Linked DNA regions of Homo sapiens: region 1 is linked to region 2. Evidence: fine-mapped expression QTL. Tissue or cell type: monocytes after interferon gamma. Region 2 holds a variant in brackets; the other region holds the start of a gene. All regions are shown on one strand. Distances are from middle to middle.

What was found. PIP is the estimated chance that this variant, and not a neighbour inherited with it, causes the effect.
Region 1: BORA starts here. The variant in region 2 is fine-mapped to the expression of BORA in monocytes after interferon gamma (Fairfax 2014, PIP 0.95). The same link has a PIP of 0.9 or more in B cells, NK cells, monocytes and monocytes after LPS.

The regions. Positions count from the first base shown.
Region 1 is chr13:72,724,276-72,732,463 of GRCh38, forward strand. It overlaps BORA (BORA aurora kinase A activator), which reads left to right and starts at 3,648. Exons shown (of 12, transcript NM_024808.5): 1 at 3,648-3,732; 2 at 4,651-4,818; 3 at 7,006-7,112. The coding sequence starts at 4,666. It overlaps MZT1 (mitotic spindle organizing protein 1), which reads right to left and starts at 3,354. Exons shown (of 3, transcript NM_001071775.3): 1 at 3,249-3,354. The coding sequence starts at 3,327. RefSeq lists silencers at 2,800-2,859, 2,815-2,996, 3,520-3,669 and enhancers at 3,090-3,159, 3,880-3,929.
Region 2 is chr13:72,925,544-72,933,731 of GRCh38, forward strand. It overlaps PIBF1 (progesterone immunomodulatory binding factor 1), which reads left to right. Exons shown (of 18, transcript NM_006346.4): 14 at 5,622-5,724. Among named protein-coding and RNA genes, the nearest start is that of KLF5, 130 kb to the right of the region's middle. The variant A/G (reference allele first, on the strand shown) is at 5,078.

The sequences.
Region 1 (8,188 bases), 200 kb before region 2:
TATCACAATTTTGATAAAAGACTGGTGGGTAGGATGAACAGGAGATATTTAGCCAACCTGAAATGAGTCAAGAATTGAAAGGGCTTAGTGAAGAACAGGAGGCAGAGGAGGTGAGAAAGCAAGACTGACTTCTAGATTTCTTTCTCAAATGTGCAACTGGATTGATGGTGGTAGCATGGACTGTTTCGCTGGTACTGCCTTGCAGTGCTAGTCAAATGGAATCTATATACCATAGATTCTCTTAACTCCTTTCTCTATAACGTGTTTTTTTTTTTTTTTTTGAGATGGAGTCTAGCTCTGTCACCCAGTCTGCAGTGCAGTGGCGCAATCTCAGCTCACGACAACCTTCGCCTCCCAGGTTCAAGCGATTCTCCTGCCTCAGCCTCCCAAGTAGCTGGGATTACAGGCACCCGTACTTACTACTAAATATATATATATATATACATATATATATATATATATATACACATATATATATGTAAAGTGGTGCTACAGGCCGGGCACAGTGGCTCACGCCTATAATCCCAGCACTTTGGGAGGCTGAGGCGGGTGGATCACCTGAGGTCAGGAGTTCCAGACCAGACTGGCCAACATGGTGAAACCCTGTCTCTACTAAAAATACAAAAATTAGCTGGGCGTGGTGGCGGGCGCCTATAATCCTAGTTACTCCAGAGGCCAAGGCAGGAGAATTGGTTCCCATCCCCAGCTTCAACCTGGGAGGCGGAGGTTGCAGTGAGCCAAGGTCGCGCCACTGCACTCCAGCCAGACTCGGTCTCAAAAAAAAAAAAAAAATAGTGCTATGATAAAGCCTCTCATAAGGAATAATTATCAAAATTAAAATTCAGATGCACAGGACGATTTTAGAGGAAAATAAAAATTAAGGTATAAAAAGCAATCAATAGAGAGTACCTAACATACCAAAAAGTTGAAAAGCAAAAGAGGCAACCATACACAGTGGGTTGCGAGGGGGGTGTTGTTGAAAAGGCACGACTATTTTAAGCGTGTAGAATTTTAGGGATATAAGGATGAAAGCAGAGATCTCATGCAGACCTTATTCTAAATTGGCAGAGATAGTTCTTTTCAGAGTGAGGTGCACAGATAATTTATTAATAGAAAGTTAGCCTGCTTCCTTCCATGTCTTTAACAAAATCCTTTCATTTCATGATCAAAATGCAAATGTAGCCAAGAGTTCTGCAATTCACATGACTTAAAGGGAGGTTCACAAATGCTACCATTGAGGGGAGAAATGGTATTCAAAAAGTTTTGAAAATTTTATTTTTGATCTCACGGGTTGATTTAAATACTGTGTAACACCACATCCCCTCTCCTTCATTTTTTGTTTTACTTCACTTTTTTGTGTTCTTACTCTCTTTATAATCTTCATTTCACACCAAGTTTTCTCAGAAGAGATCTTGATGATGCAGCCAACACAAACCATCAGTTCTCAATTGTACATCAGTGATTCCACCAGAGAAAATGTGAGTTTTCTGTTCAAATGGGATCCTGTGGCCATATACATAAGGAACCTAAGTACAGCTAACCTAAGAAAATAGGCTAGAAGTGAGGTCTTATACTCTACCTTTTTCCAAGGAAATATACAAGACAGTAAATTTATATTTATATACACACACATATATATATTCATACATAAATCCACTTACAAAATAAAACTATTAAGTGTTGATACATCGAAAAGGATAGAAAAATAAGCTGAATATTAAGAGTAACATTCTCAGAAAAACAGCAAGGTAGATACTGAACAAGTGAAAAATTAGATGCAAAGGCTCTAAAAGTGTAATTCTTTGAAAAGAAAACCAGGACCAGTGCAGAAAAAGCCAGCAGCCCCTCTGCAAGTGCTACATAAGAAAATGAGGCCGGGCATGGTGGCTCACGCCTGTAATCCTAGCATTTTGGGAGGCCGAGGCATGTGGATCACCTGAAGTCAGGAGTTCGAGACCAACCTGGCCAACATGGGGAAACTCCGTCTCTACTAAAAATACAAAAAATTAGCCGGGTGTTCTGGCGGGCACCTGTAATCCCAGCTACTCCAGAGGCTGAGGCAGGAGAATCGCCTGAACCCGGGAGGCGGAGGTTGCAGTGAGCCGAGGTTGCGCCATTGCACTCCACCCTGGGCAACTACAGCAAGACTGTGTCTCAAAAAAGAAAAAAAGAGCCTACGGTGAAGGAGAGAGAGATACAGCAGTGAGAATTTCATAGGGTTATCTTTTAACAGAGACGGAAGCTGACGTGAGTAGACCCTGGAAAACGTCTAGGCCCACTGCAAATAACAACATCGATCAAACACTCATAATACAGGTGGATGTGAGTAAAAAGGAGACAAAGAAAGAAGACTACAAGAGAGAGGCCATCTGAAATAATATAAAAATAATTGATCATCTTTGATATGTTTTTACATGGTTGTCTTATTTAAATATTCACAACTCCTGGAGGTAGGGTTTTATTTTACAGAAAAAAAAAAAAAAAAAACTAAACAGGCTCAATGATGTTTAAGTATCTAGTCCAAGCTCACCACAGGGGCATAAAGTGGCAGAACCGACATTAGAGGGTAGACAGAGGGTAACCGCAAGACACAAATTTCGTGTTCTGCAACACTTGTGTAGGCTTCACACACACGTGCCTCCGGGGCCGAAAACAGGCGACACCATAGCACTTGGGCACTGGTGTCACCCGCTTCAAGAGGAAACTAGGATAATTATGACCAAAGGGGAACTTGTTCATTCGCCGGATATTAAAGGTGCCTACTTAAGTGCGAAGAACAGGAGGCATAGCGGTGACCAAACACCTGGCCCCTGTCCCCGCCGGGATCCCAACCTTGGGGACCCCCGAAGCGCCCCGGGCGGGAATCGGGTGGGACGCGGCACGCAGGAGGGAACGGGTGTACTGGGTGGGGTGGGCGTGACGCTGTCACCGCAGGAGATCGGGCGGGTAGGGCGGACCTGGGATGCGGGATAGAGGGGGCGCGGCATTCGCGCGAGAGGGACGCGGTGCGCAACCGGCTGACTAGGGGCCGCAACGCCTAGCGCGCGCGACAAACTACGCAGCGGCGGAGACAACTCTCAAGGGATAGGGCCATCAGCCCTGCGGCCCTGGCAGGTCCCTACCAAAGATCTTGGAAGATGCCGTTTGGGGCACTAAGGGGACCTGAAGTCCTCCCCAGGCTCATTCCCGCCTGGGGGCCTTGGCTCTGGGAAGGCACGCAAGGTAAAGGGAGCGCAACGGAAACTCACCGTCCATGGTCTCCCGCACCGCATTCAGATTCGCCGCCGCGGCCGCCGCCGCCGCCCCAGCACCGCTGCTACTCGCCATGGCTAAGGCCGAGGGAGGCGGGAGAAGGGCCTGACCCGGAACTGGAGCGCCTTCCTCTCTCCGAGGCAATCACACAGCGCGTCTCGGCCCACGCCGGGCAGGCTCCGCCCCTCGCGCTCGCCGCCGGCGTGAGGCTGCGTTGATTTGAATTTGGAGCCACGTTCCTCTGCGCGGAACGTGGAGCGAGGAGTTGCCATTCGAATTTCCTACGCGGCCTCCGTGCGATTGGCTGGTTCGCGGATGGCGGGACGACACGATTGGCTAGTCGCTCACAAGCCCCGTGCCCTGGTTGGCCCAAGACAGCGCGGAAGCGGGGAGTTAAAGAGTCTATGCCTGTCGTGGAAGCTGGCCTGGCCCCCGGAGCTCCCTGGAGTCGGTACTGGGGGCTTCGTTTTGTACGCACCGGTAGGTACGCTCTTTGTGGTCCCTGGCCTTTCCTCCTGTCTGAATGGAGAGGTTTCTTTTCCCAGCTCCTGACTTGCCTGCCCGCTCGCCCCTGGTGAATGGGAGCAGTCAGGGAGTAGGTGTGGAAGAGAGGGGCACCAGAAAGAGTGGCCACGTAGGGTTGGGGGCGACGCCTCCTTCGCACTCCATCCAGGGAAGCCGGCTGCATCTCAACCTTCCAGAAGTAGACTCTTTTCCACCCCACCCCGCCAAGGTGTAGCCTCTGTAGCCTCCTTTGATTGCAAGTAATGCAGTCTCCCTTTCTATCCCGGGAGGGGTGGAGGGGAGGTCTTGGCGAAAGGAGGATTTTTGGAGGAAAGGGGACCCCAGGCAGTTAATTTCCTAGCCCCTGTCAATCATACTTCTCTGGCTAGGACTCATGTGCAAGAAAGGCACAAGCTTCCTCATCTCTTACCTGCTTGCTACAAAGAATTGTTTAATAGCAACTGTAGTTGGATAGGGTATCCGAAGAATGTTCATAGTGTTGAGACATGAGATGATGAATTTAAAAAAAATTGTAGCTATAAGTCCTTTAGTTGAGAAGAGATCTGGGCCTGTTGTAACCTTTAGTTTCCTCAGAGGCAGATCTGAATTCATTCATATTTGATTGCTGCGTATAAGCCACTTCACTTCTCTGAGCTTAATACTTTCGCAAAATAATATCACTAGTAAGTTACTGCTATAGCTTTCAAGGTTGTTTCGAGGATCAGTTGAGAACATTTATATGTGATACTTTTTTTGTAAGCTGTATCATAGCCCCAAGAGTGTGAGGTTTTGAGTTGTTTTTTGTGACACATTTGTCGAGTACATTTTAATAGTTAAAATTAATATCTATGGGACTTTGTAATTTTAACATGCATACTCTTGATTTCTTTTTAGTTTTCTCTCTGTGCTATGGGAGATGTCAAGGAATCAAAGATGCAAATAACACCAGAAACTCCAGGAAGGATCCCTGTTTTAAATCCTTTTGAAAGTCCTAGTGATTATTCTAATCTCCATGAACAAACTCTCGCCAGTCCTTCTGTTTTTAAATCAACAAAATTACCAGTAAGTTATTCCTGACTAGTGTTTACAACTAATTTTAAATGTAAGTAATTACAAATAATTTTAAATGTAAACATCTGTCTTTACAAGGTAAGGAGGAAATACATTATGGAGCATATATAGCTGCAATATACTTTTTTAAATTGTAGTGTTCATTATAATCTAGTGGTTAGGTTAATAAGTTAGCTAGAAGATTTTTTTTTTTTTAAGTTCAAGAACATACGTTAGCTTCCTGCAGTTGTGGGTGTAGCTACATTCTGTGGTTGACGATATAGCTACTAATACATTAGAGAAGAAGCTGCATCATCTAATATTCTGTTCTCACTTATTTGGCAAACATTATTTGAGTGTTGCTATGTGTCAGATACAGTGCTAAGCAGGGATTACACTGTGAACAAGTTAGGATCATTAGGCACAAATCCTTAAGGAGGTTATACTCCGATGTATGGGTCACAAACTTTCTGTTAGGGGCCAGACAGTAAATATTTAAGCTTTACAGGTCATTTGGTCTCTGTCACAACTACTCACTTCTGTCTTGTATCACAAAAGCAGCCATAGGCAATGTGTAAAGAGATAAATGTTACTCTGTTCCAATACAGCTTTATTTATGGACACATTTGAATTTCATATAATTTTCACATGTCACAAGATATTTTTTTGTTTGTTTTCCCAACCATTTGAAACTGTCAAAATAATTCTTAGCTTGCAATCTATTATAAAAAGAAACTAACCCCTATTTTAATGTGTTAAACAGAACTAGATGAGTAATATCAAGGCAGTGTGATAGGTGATATGATTAGTACTTAGGACAATAGTAATATGAAGGAAAAGTGTTCTTCAGGATATTAGAAAAGGCTTCATCACTTTATCTTTTTTTTTTTTTTGGTAGAGATGGGATTTCACCATGTTGGCCAGGCTGATCTCGAACTCCTGACCTCATGTGATGCACCCACTTCAGCCTCCCAAAGTGCTGGGATTACAGGCATGAGCCACCATGCCCGGGCCACTTTATCTTATTTTACTGTTATTTGCTACACTGGATAAGTTCTTTTGACCTTGGATCTTTCAACCTACCAAGTTACTTAGAAAAACTGCAAATAGGGTGGCTGTTTCTGCTACACTTTCATACAGGTTTTACAATGAGCAAGTATGTACTAGTGGAAGGTCGAGCAGTTTATATTGAGTCATTTCATCAATCTGACCTTATGATTTTTAATTGAATCATTAAAATTTATCTCTTGGTCTTACTAAAAATAAATAATAGATTGACGGCAGCTTAATCCTCAAAGTTGGAATGTATGGCATCTTGCGTTTTTAGGACTGAATTTGCCTAGAATATATTTCTAATTACAGATTAGGATTTGGATAAACCTTTAATTCAGTTGCATGGTTGAGTACAGAAAGGCAGCACTGGTTGCCATTCATAATTATTTTAAGGATCAACTATGTTGTGAGCTTTTGCAGCCACCTCCAAAGTGACTAAGGACTTTAATTTCAGTTCCTTCTTAGTGAAAGTAAAGACGTTTGTTAACTGTGAGAGATTTTTACTTTTACATGGGCTTAGTTTATCACACTGATGAGTGTTAATTGTGAAAGTTTTATATCTTTATTACTCTGTTGTGATTTTTCTCGTATTACGTAATTCCAACCCAGGTGAAAGATTCTGATATTTTAAAAGAGATACAGGCTGGGCGCTGTGGCTCATGCCTGTAATCCCAGCACTGCCAAGGTGGGCTGATGACTTGAAGTCAGGAGTTTGAGACCAGCCTGGCCAACATGGTGAAACCCCATCTCTACTAAAAAAAAAAAAAAAAAAAAAATACAAAAATTAGCTGGGTGTGGTGGCGGGTGCCTGTAATCCCAGCTACTCAGGAGGCTGAGGCAGGAGAATCGCTTGAACCGGGGAGGTGGAGGTTGCAGTGAGCTGAGATTACACCAGTGCACTCCAGCCTCGGTGACAGAACGAGACTCTGTCTTAAACAAAGAGAGAGAGAGATACAATTAAGTCAGTTGATCGAATGTGATATGATTACCCTTTGCCATTTAATTTCATGGTAAAGTCAAATTTTAAAATACAAGCTTTAAAATATTTTCATATTATAACCATTCATATTATTTCTCACATAGGTTAGCATTTTGATGAACTATTTTAGTTTGCCTTTACTCATAAGCTCACTTTCTTTTGTTAAGACTCCAGGGAAATTTAGATGGTCTATTGATCAACTAGCTGTAATAAATCCTGTAGAAATAGACCCAGAAGATATTCATCGTCAAGCTTTATACTTAAGTCATTCTCGGTAAGTTTTCCTTTCTTGCACCTAAGTCTAATAACACTCTCAAGTGAAGAGAGGTAGGAAATTCTAAATGTTGAGTATTTTTCTATGTAAAGGTATCAGGGAGAAAAAATTTTGATGCAGATTTTTTCTATCTAAATGAATGAGTTCAAAGAACTACATTCAGAAAGATTTTCTTGCCAACAGTTCCAGACCTGAGTAGATACCTTTTTCTTTTACAAGTAACCTTTTCCCTCTGCTACTGAGGTGACAGCTCTGTACCCCTAGCACTCAGTTAAGAGAAGAACATTTTGAAATTTGCACTTTTCTACATGGTTGTGGCTTCTGCCATTAACTTGTTTCAGTTTGTCTTTTTGATGATTTGGGGTAAAGCAAAATGCTGTTTCATTGTTATCTATGTTTGGGGAAACCTAAAACCCCCTCAAAGAGTTACGTATGCACTGAATGGAAGGGTATCCATTAGCAACAGAGCGGTTTTTTAGACATCATCCAACTGTAACAATTCACTTGGAATCTGAATTACATTTTCTAGAATTCTACATATCACCCAGTGCAGTCTTATTTGTTGATGTGTTGTTTAGGTTTCAAGGCACTAATGTACTGCAGATTTAGTTTTTTATTACAAAGTGTAAGGTCCTATTATTCTTTTGTAGTTTTAGGGACTCTTGTTTATATGTTTTATAGTCTGATTTTTTAATATTTGAAAAAAATCAAATACATGGTATGACCAGATTTTAATTTGCTGTCCTAAGGTAGACATGTTGTTAGTCCAAAACAAAGGATAATCCTTTTCCCTTTGACTTAAGAATTCAGTCACACAACGTTGCACACATATTGAGATATTCTGGTAAATACTTACTGGCTTTTCTCCTCCATCTTCTCTTTGCTTGGTAACATGATGACCATTCAATCATAAAATTAATGTCCACCCAGAGTGTTAATAGGAAGGGAATAGAATGAGGATGAAGCATGAAAGGATTTTAACTTAAATTTAAATAATACCTTTGAGGCCAGGTGTGGTGGCTCACACCTGTAATCCCAGCATTTTGGGAGGCTGAGGCGGGCAGATCACTTGAGGT
Region 2 (8,188 bases):
TTTTTTTTTTTTTTTTTTTTGAGACGGAGTCTCTGTTGCCCAGGCTGGAGTGCAGTGGTGGAATCTCAGCTCACTGCAAGCTCCGCCTCCCGGGTTCAAGTGATTCTCCTGCCTCAGCCTCCTAAGTAGCTGGGATTACAGGCGCCTGCCACCACACCCAGCTAATTTTTGTATTTTTAGGAGAGACGGGGTTTCACCATGTTGGCCAGGCTGGTCTCGAACTCCTGACCTCAAGTGATCTGCCCACCTCAGCCTCCCAAAGTGCTGGGATTATAGGCATGAGCCACCGCACCCGGCCCTGTTTTTCTTTTTCATGACAAAACTGAAATGGTTAAAATCTTTTTACTTTCTTAATGGTGCATTTTGAAGCCCAGAATTTTAAAATTTTGATGCAGTCCAGTTTATCCAATTTTTTTTGTTACTTATGCTTTTGCTGCCCTGAGAATCTTTTGCTAAATCTAATTTTGTGAGGATTTACTCATATGTTTTCTTCTAAAAGTTTATAGTTTTAGCTTCTGTATTTAGGTCTTTGATCCATTCTAATTAATTTTTTGGTATCATATGAGGTAAGGGCTTTGTACTGTTTATTAATGTGGCTACTAGAAAATTTTAAATTGCATATGTGGCTTGCATTATATTTCCATTGGACAAAGCTGACCTAGACCAGTGGTCTCCAAACTTTTTGATACGAATTTTTATTGGGAAAAAATTTGAGTACACACTCAGCAATATATGCATATGTATTCATATTTATTTATAGATTATGTACGCATGTGCTATCATATGAATAGTATGCACATAATGATATAAAACCTACACAGCAAATGAAAACTTAAGATAATTTAACATTAAAATAAATGTAAGTAAAAGTTCCCACAGTTCAAGAAATAATTTTGCACATAACTACTTTTAAAGACCACTGGTCTAGATTATGATCATAACCTTCTAAATGACTGTAGTCTTCTTCCTTCTGCAGGCCATCCTGCACACTACTGATAGAGCACTCTTTCTAAAGTGCGGGCCAGATCGTGTTATGTCTAACCAACTTCAGGATAAAATCCAAACATACAAGGCTTTTCATAAAATATCTCTGCCTATATCTCTCTAGCTTCAACCCTCACCATGCACCATATATTATTGATCTATACTCTACTACTTAGAATTTTCCCTAGCACTTCATCCTCTACATAGGCATTTCCCTCTACCTAAAATGCTGTTTCTCTGCTTCTTCACCAGATTAGTTAGTATAGTTTTTATTCCTTAGTGGTATGCCTTTTCTTAGCATTTAGCATACTACAGTAATTTTTAAATTTGCCTGTCTTCCTCAGTAGACTATTAGATCTTCCCAGTAGATATTATGTATTCTCAGTGCCTATGCAGATTATAGGTTTTTAATACATGTTTCTTCAAAGGAAGTGTTCATGAATATTTTTCGAATGAATTAATGAGTGTGTTTCTTCTAATTCACCCTGCTTTTCTGCAGTCATTGATATTCATCACCAAGAAAAAATAGTAATTTCCTTTTTTTTTTTTTTTGAAACAGAGTCTCACTCAGTTGCCTAGGCTGTAGTGCAGTGGCACGATCTTGGCTCACTGCTTACTGCAACCTCTGCCTCCCGGGTTCAATAGATTGTTGTGCCTCAGCGTTCCAAGTAGCTGGGATTAAAGATGTGTGCCACTGTCCGGGCGTGGTGGCTCACGCCTGTAATCCCAGCACTATGGGAGGCCGAGGTGGGCGGATCACGAGGTCAGGAGATCGAGACCATCTGGCTAACATGGTGAAACCCTGTCTCTACTAAAAGTACAAAAAATTAGCCGGGCCTAGTGGCGGGCACCTGTGGTCCCAGCTACTGAGGAGGCTGAGACAGGAGAATGGCGCGAACCCGGGAGGCGGAACTTGCAGTGAGCCGAGATCGCGTCACTGCACTCCAGCCTGGTGACAGAGCAAGACTCCAACTCAAAAATAAAAATTAAAATAAAAAAAAGATGTGTGCCACCACACCCAGATAATTTTCGTGTTTTTAGTAGAGGTGGGGTTTTGCCATGTTGGCCAGGCTGGTCTCAAACTCCTGGCCTCAAGTGATCTGCCTGCCTTGGCCTAATTTTTTTTTACTGTTTTTGTTTTACTGTAAGTATTATAATGATGAAAAACAGTTATATTTCTTGTTTCTGCTGTGTTCTTTTGCTTAAATATATCTTTATATTTCTTTTCATTAAATCTTAATATAATCTCTTATATCCTTAATAATACAATCTTAATAAATCTGAGTATAATCTTTTAATGAAAGATTTTATATTATCTTTTGTTCTTTTCTGTGTATGTGTGTTTGTACTACATTAGTGGGCTAAATGGGTCTTTTAGGGCAACTGAGAACTTTAATACCATTTCTAATATATGTGTGTATATATATATATACACATATATATATATATACATATATATATACACACACATATATATACATATATATACATATATATACATATATATATATATATATACATATATATATGAGGAAATGTGTTTTACTGTTCTTACAACTGACTTAGAGGTGAGTTTTTAAAATGTGAACCCCATATATACTGGAGACCAATTGTACCATGTTGTCTTCTACATTATTATCATTATGCATCATAAATGACATCAACAGTCATACTAATACTCACGGTCCTTCCCGTCACCATCAATTCTCAGAAAGTTTTTCTCAGTAAAATTGTACTATAAACTAGTAATCAAAGCACTGTAGAGTATATTTGTAAGCAATTTGAAGATACCTTAGATACTTTCCTTCTATTTAGAGTTGATTTTCCTTACTTGGAATCTCCCAGTCAAAATCAGGGAAATTCCTTTTTGAAGAAAGTAGTCCTGGTGTTAAGGCTTAAGCACTAGCATACCAAGAATTTCTTTTTTTTGAGATGAAGTCTTGCTCTTGTCCCCCAGGCTGGAGTGTGATGGCACCATCTCAGCTCATTGCAACCTCCGCCTCCCAGGTTCAAGCGATTCTCCTGCCTCAGCCTCCTCAGTTGCTGGGATTACAGGCGCCTGCCACCACGCCCAGCTAATTTTTGTATTTTTAGTAGAGACAGGGTTTCACCATGTTGGCCAGGCTGGTCTTGAACTCCTGACCTCAGGTGATCTGCCTGCCTCAGTCTCCCAAAGTGCTGGGATTATAGGCGTGAGCCACCTCACCCGGCAAGAATTTCTTGAGTCAGTGTTTTATGACTTATGATATTTTTATTGGTAAGCGGTATCACCCTATCTGTATAAGAACATTATAGAATTCCCAAACAAAATAAAAGCACTCAAACCAAATGAACAATTTAACATTATTAAACTTGATGTCTTCAAGTCATTATCTTGTTCAGATTGTTGGTAATATGTGACCTCTGCATCTCATTTTCTTGCATGTCTTTGTCTTCCATTTCATTCATTTGTAACTCTAGTTCTGTGTAATTGCATTTGATTGTGTTTATTGTTCTATACTGAGTATACACATACTTGTTCTACACCTTCAACATATTTATTGAAAAATTACCATGTTTAAGTGACCCTAGTGTGAAGTTCTGTGGGACACAAAAAGATAAAAAAAAGTTAACACCTAACATGTATGAAGAGTAAGAAAGCAAGAATAAAAATGTGAATAAAGATAGCTCCAAGATTTTTTAATTAACCTAATAAAAATAGAGCTAATGATAAACTGATGCTTGCAAACGTATAATGGAATCAACGGATTTTAAATGCAAAATTCACATTAAGGCTTATTTTATTTGTAGAAATCTTGTTATTTTAGGGTCAAATTAGAGAGAACTTAGTATATTTTTATTGGGAAATGAAGAACAATATAGTCATAAACTGTAAACTCCTTAAAAATTTATAAAGAGAGAAAGATTAATGGTTCCCTAAGGTTGAATTTGAGGAGCAAAGGAGGAAGTTGGAATGTGGGGAGGATGGAGAGTGACTGGTAATGGACACAGAAATTCTTCTTGAGATAATGAAAATGCTCTAAAATTAGATTATAGTGATAGTGGCACAACTCTAAATATACTAAAAATCATTGAATTGTACACTTTAAATTGGTGGACTTTATGATATTTAAGTTGCATATCAGTAAAATTGTATGTCAGTAAAGTTTAAAAAAAAAGTGGTTGTCAAAAAATGAGGACTGTATGCTTTTTCCATCTCTAATGCCAGTTGAAAGAATTTTAGATCTAAACAAGCAACTCAAATCACTTTATAAACTTTTGCCAGAACTCATCTTTTTTATTTGGTATGAGTTCTTAGAAATAGATATATAGAATGATATTTAACACTATTTATTATTATTATTATTTTTAGAGACAGGGTCTCTGTGTCACCCCAGGCTGGATTGCAGTGGCACAATCCTAGCTCACTGTAACCTCGAACTCCTGGGCTCACGTGATCCCCCCATCTCAGCCTCCCAAGTAGCTGGAACCACAGGCATGCACCATCATGCCCAGCTAATTTTTGTATTTTTTGCAGAGGCAGGGTCTCACCCTGTTGCCCATACTGGTCTTGAATTCCTGGCCTCAAGTGATCCTCCTGCCTCAGCCTCCCAGAGTGCTGGGGTTGCAGGCATGAGCCACCGCGCCTGGCCTTAACATTATTTTTTAGAATGTTGTCTGCATTTCTTTATCTGATATTGGGAAATATTAAAATACAATAGAATTTTTTCTGCCCTATGATTTTATTTAAAGCACAGTTATCTTACTTTTTGTCATTATAAAACATTCCATCTAGGATTCCATGGATTCTGCAATTCACAGATTAATAGGTTAACTAGTATAAAATATGAAAATATGATAAATATGAAAATGTTAAGTTACTGGAAATGCAGAGAGGTTCTTTGGAGCAATATGTCTTCTCAAAATTATTAGCAGTTCTTTAAAGAAATATACCACTTCCTCCCACCATAGTTAGAAGGAATAGATTTTATTCTTAAAATTGTTTCTTAAAAGTAGAATTGAGATGTTTCATATGTAATTTTAAATACTAAAGGTCAGTGCAATAAGTTATGGTAATGCAGAGCATCAGAGGGAGTGATTTTTTTCTTTTAGT[A/G]CAGAAGCTTAGCCTTTACTATAGACATTCTCTAAGTTTTATATATCTTTTTCATCTCCACTTTCAATTAAAAACCTCATTTTTGTTTTATATTATAACATGCATTATGTTGTTTAAAGTAAACTCTGATACTTCTCAAAGTGATAAGCTAATTATTGTTTGTAATATTTCAACTAATTTTCTGATTTGTAATTGGAAAATATTTATAAAAGTGGAGACAAGCTGTAAATTGCTGTATTGTGGTCTTTTCAAGCAAGTGTTATAATGTTACCTCTCCACTTTTATAGCAAGGGCTAAAAACCGTTACTGCAGTAATCAGTCTATCACGGTTATGTTTTAATGTTGTTACTCTCATAATTCTGAGTTGTGGGGTATTGGTCTTCCACTACTGGTGCCTGAAAATATTATTTGACTCTATATTTTTTCTGTTAATATTTAAGTATAATTAGGAAATGATGTCTATTTTCAAGTACACAAACACATTTTGAATATTTTGGGCAGTATTTCACTTTTAAGCATTAATTTTCTTATTTCATTTGCCTAGTGTTCACTTGGCAAGAAGAGTGCTTCAATTAGAAAAACAAAACTCGCTGATTTTAAAAGATCTGGAACATCGAAAGGACCAAGTAACACAGCTTTCACAAGAGGTAAATAACTTAAAGAAACCCATATGAAGAATCACAGTATTCATTTTAATTGTTTGTAACTCTTTTATTTTTCTAAGCAGTTTTAAAATAAGCTGTTTGCTAGTACAAAATGATTTCACAATTTATGAAACTAACTGAATGTTAAGGCCATAAAAAACAACTTACAGTGTATGGCAAAACTGAGAACAAAAGGGAGATTAAATGCCCAGACTAAGTATAAATGCAGACTAGACAGACAGAGCTTTGATTTCTGAGAATATCAACTGGTAAAACAGGTTTGGCAAACTTTGGTGACATTTTAAGTTTTTTACTAATCATTTTTAAGATAGATTTGGTTTTTACCTCTGTGTTTAATGAGAAATCACTCCTCTGTTAAATTTAACTTTGTTTACACTTAGAAAATCAGGCTCATATTGCTTCTTTTTCTTAGCCTTATGTCATTTAAACTACGTATATATATATATATATATATATATGTATGCATTTTACATAGCATTTTTAATCATCTTCTGATGTCAAGATCTAATTTTATTTTTCTGTACTTTTGAAATGCGAGTCATAAAACAATTTAAACCGGAGGTACTACTTTGCTAATGTTCCTTTTATTTATTTATTTAATATTCCTGAGTGTCAACATAAGAAGTTTTTCCGTTTTTTTCTTTGTTTCTTTCTTTTTTTTTTTTTTTTTTTCTGAGACAGGGTCTGGCTTTATCGCCCAGACTGGAGTGCAGTGGCATGATCACAGTTCATTGCAACCTCTGCCTCCCAGGGTCAAGGACTCCTCCCTCCTCAGCCTCCCAAGTAGCTGGAACTGTAGCTACGCACTACTGTGCCTGGCTAATTTTTGTATTTTTTTGGTAGAGACAGGGTTTCACCATGTTGCCCAGGCTAGTCTAGAACTTCTGGGCTCAAGCGATCCACCTGCCTAGGGCCTCTGAAAGTACTGGGATTGGAGATGTGCCACTGCACCCAGCCAAGAAGTTAATATTTTAAAAGTTTTAAAAACTATTTCTCTTATAACAAAGGGTTTTTTCAAGTCATACATTAAATAACATTAATATATGTTGTTTATTATTTGTTTTCTTAAGGATCTGTTTATATTCTTTAGAGTGTCTTTTCATACTATAACATTAGGAGGATCTTTATCCTCAAATTTCGAAAGACCAGAAATACTTCATTTTATTGCAGTTCCTGACACATAGTTAATGCTTGGGGTTGACACAGTGGTGTGTTGGTAAATGTTAACAGCCAGCTTTCCAAGAGGGATATGAGGGAGAGCTTGATTTGTAACATTGGCTTGTATCTCTTTTATAAATACTCCCACCATGGCTGACTTCAAACTACCAACCTAAGGTTACTGAAGATGGAGTAAAGATTGTCAGCAGCATACCAGTACTTAATGTTTGCACCATACAGATACAACAGACATAGGTAAACTCAAGAGCACAGATAATAGTAAAATAATTTTAAATTGACAAATTTGATTGTTTTTACCTTTGTTTTTAATAAAATGTATTTTACTATAAATTTAAATAATTTAGTTTAGTTTTTAATGCTAGTTGTGTTTGATAGCCAGCCCACAAAATTCCTAAAAATTTTCAGGATTCATTTGTACTTCATTCTTTTCATTGCTGAGTAATTTCTTTGTGTGGATGTACCAGTTTGTTTATCCATTTACTTGTTGATGGACATTGGAGTCATTTCCAGTTTTTGGAATAAAGCTCATATGAACATTCATGTACAAGTCTTTGTATGAAATAATAGAGAACTCCTACAAGCTGCTGCAAGCCAAGTCCAGCACACTGCTAGGTGGAAGCAGAAAAGATAATAAACAAACAAACAAACCTCTGTTTGCTAATATATTGTAGATCCCTCATGTTGCCTTTAATTTCACAGTAATTTTCAAAAATATTTTTTAAAAGTAAAATATTAAAATACATGCCTTCCTGAGCATTTCAGTTAATTGAAATAAGAATTTCTAAATGTGGGCTGGATGCAGTGGCTCATGCCTATTATCCCAGCACTTTCGGAGGCCAAGGCAGGAGAGTCACATGAGCTGAGGAGTTTGAGCCTTGGCTACAAAGCAAGATCCACCATCTCTAAAAATAAAGAAGCCGGGTGCACTGGCTCATGCCTGTAATCCCAGCACTTTGGGAAGCCAAGGCAGGGGGATCACTTGAGGTCAAGAGTTCAAGACCAGCCTGGCCAACATGGTGGAACCCTGTCTCTACTAAAAATACAAAAATTAGCTGGGCATGATGGCACATGCCTGTAATCCCAGCTACCTGGGAAGCTGAGGCACGAGAATCACTTGAGCCTGGGAGGCGGAGGTTGCAGTGAGCTGAGATCGTGCCATCGTACTCCAGCCTGGGCAACAGAGGGAAACTCTAGTCTCAAAAATAAAAAGAAAGAATTTCTAAATGTGAACACACGTCTATAAATTGTTGGGAGAAAATGTAAGAAA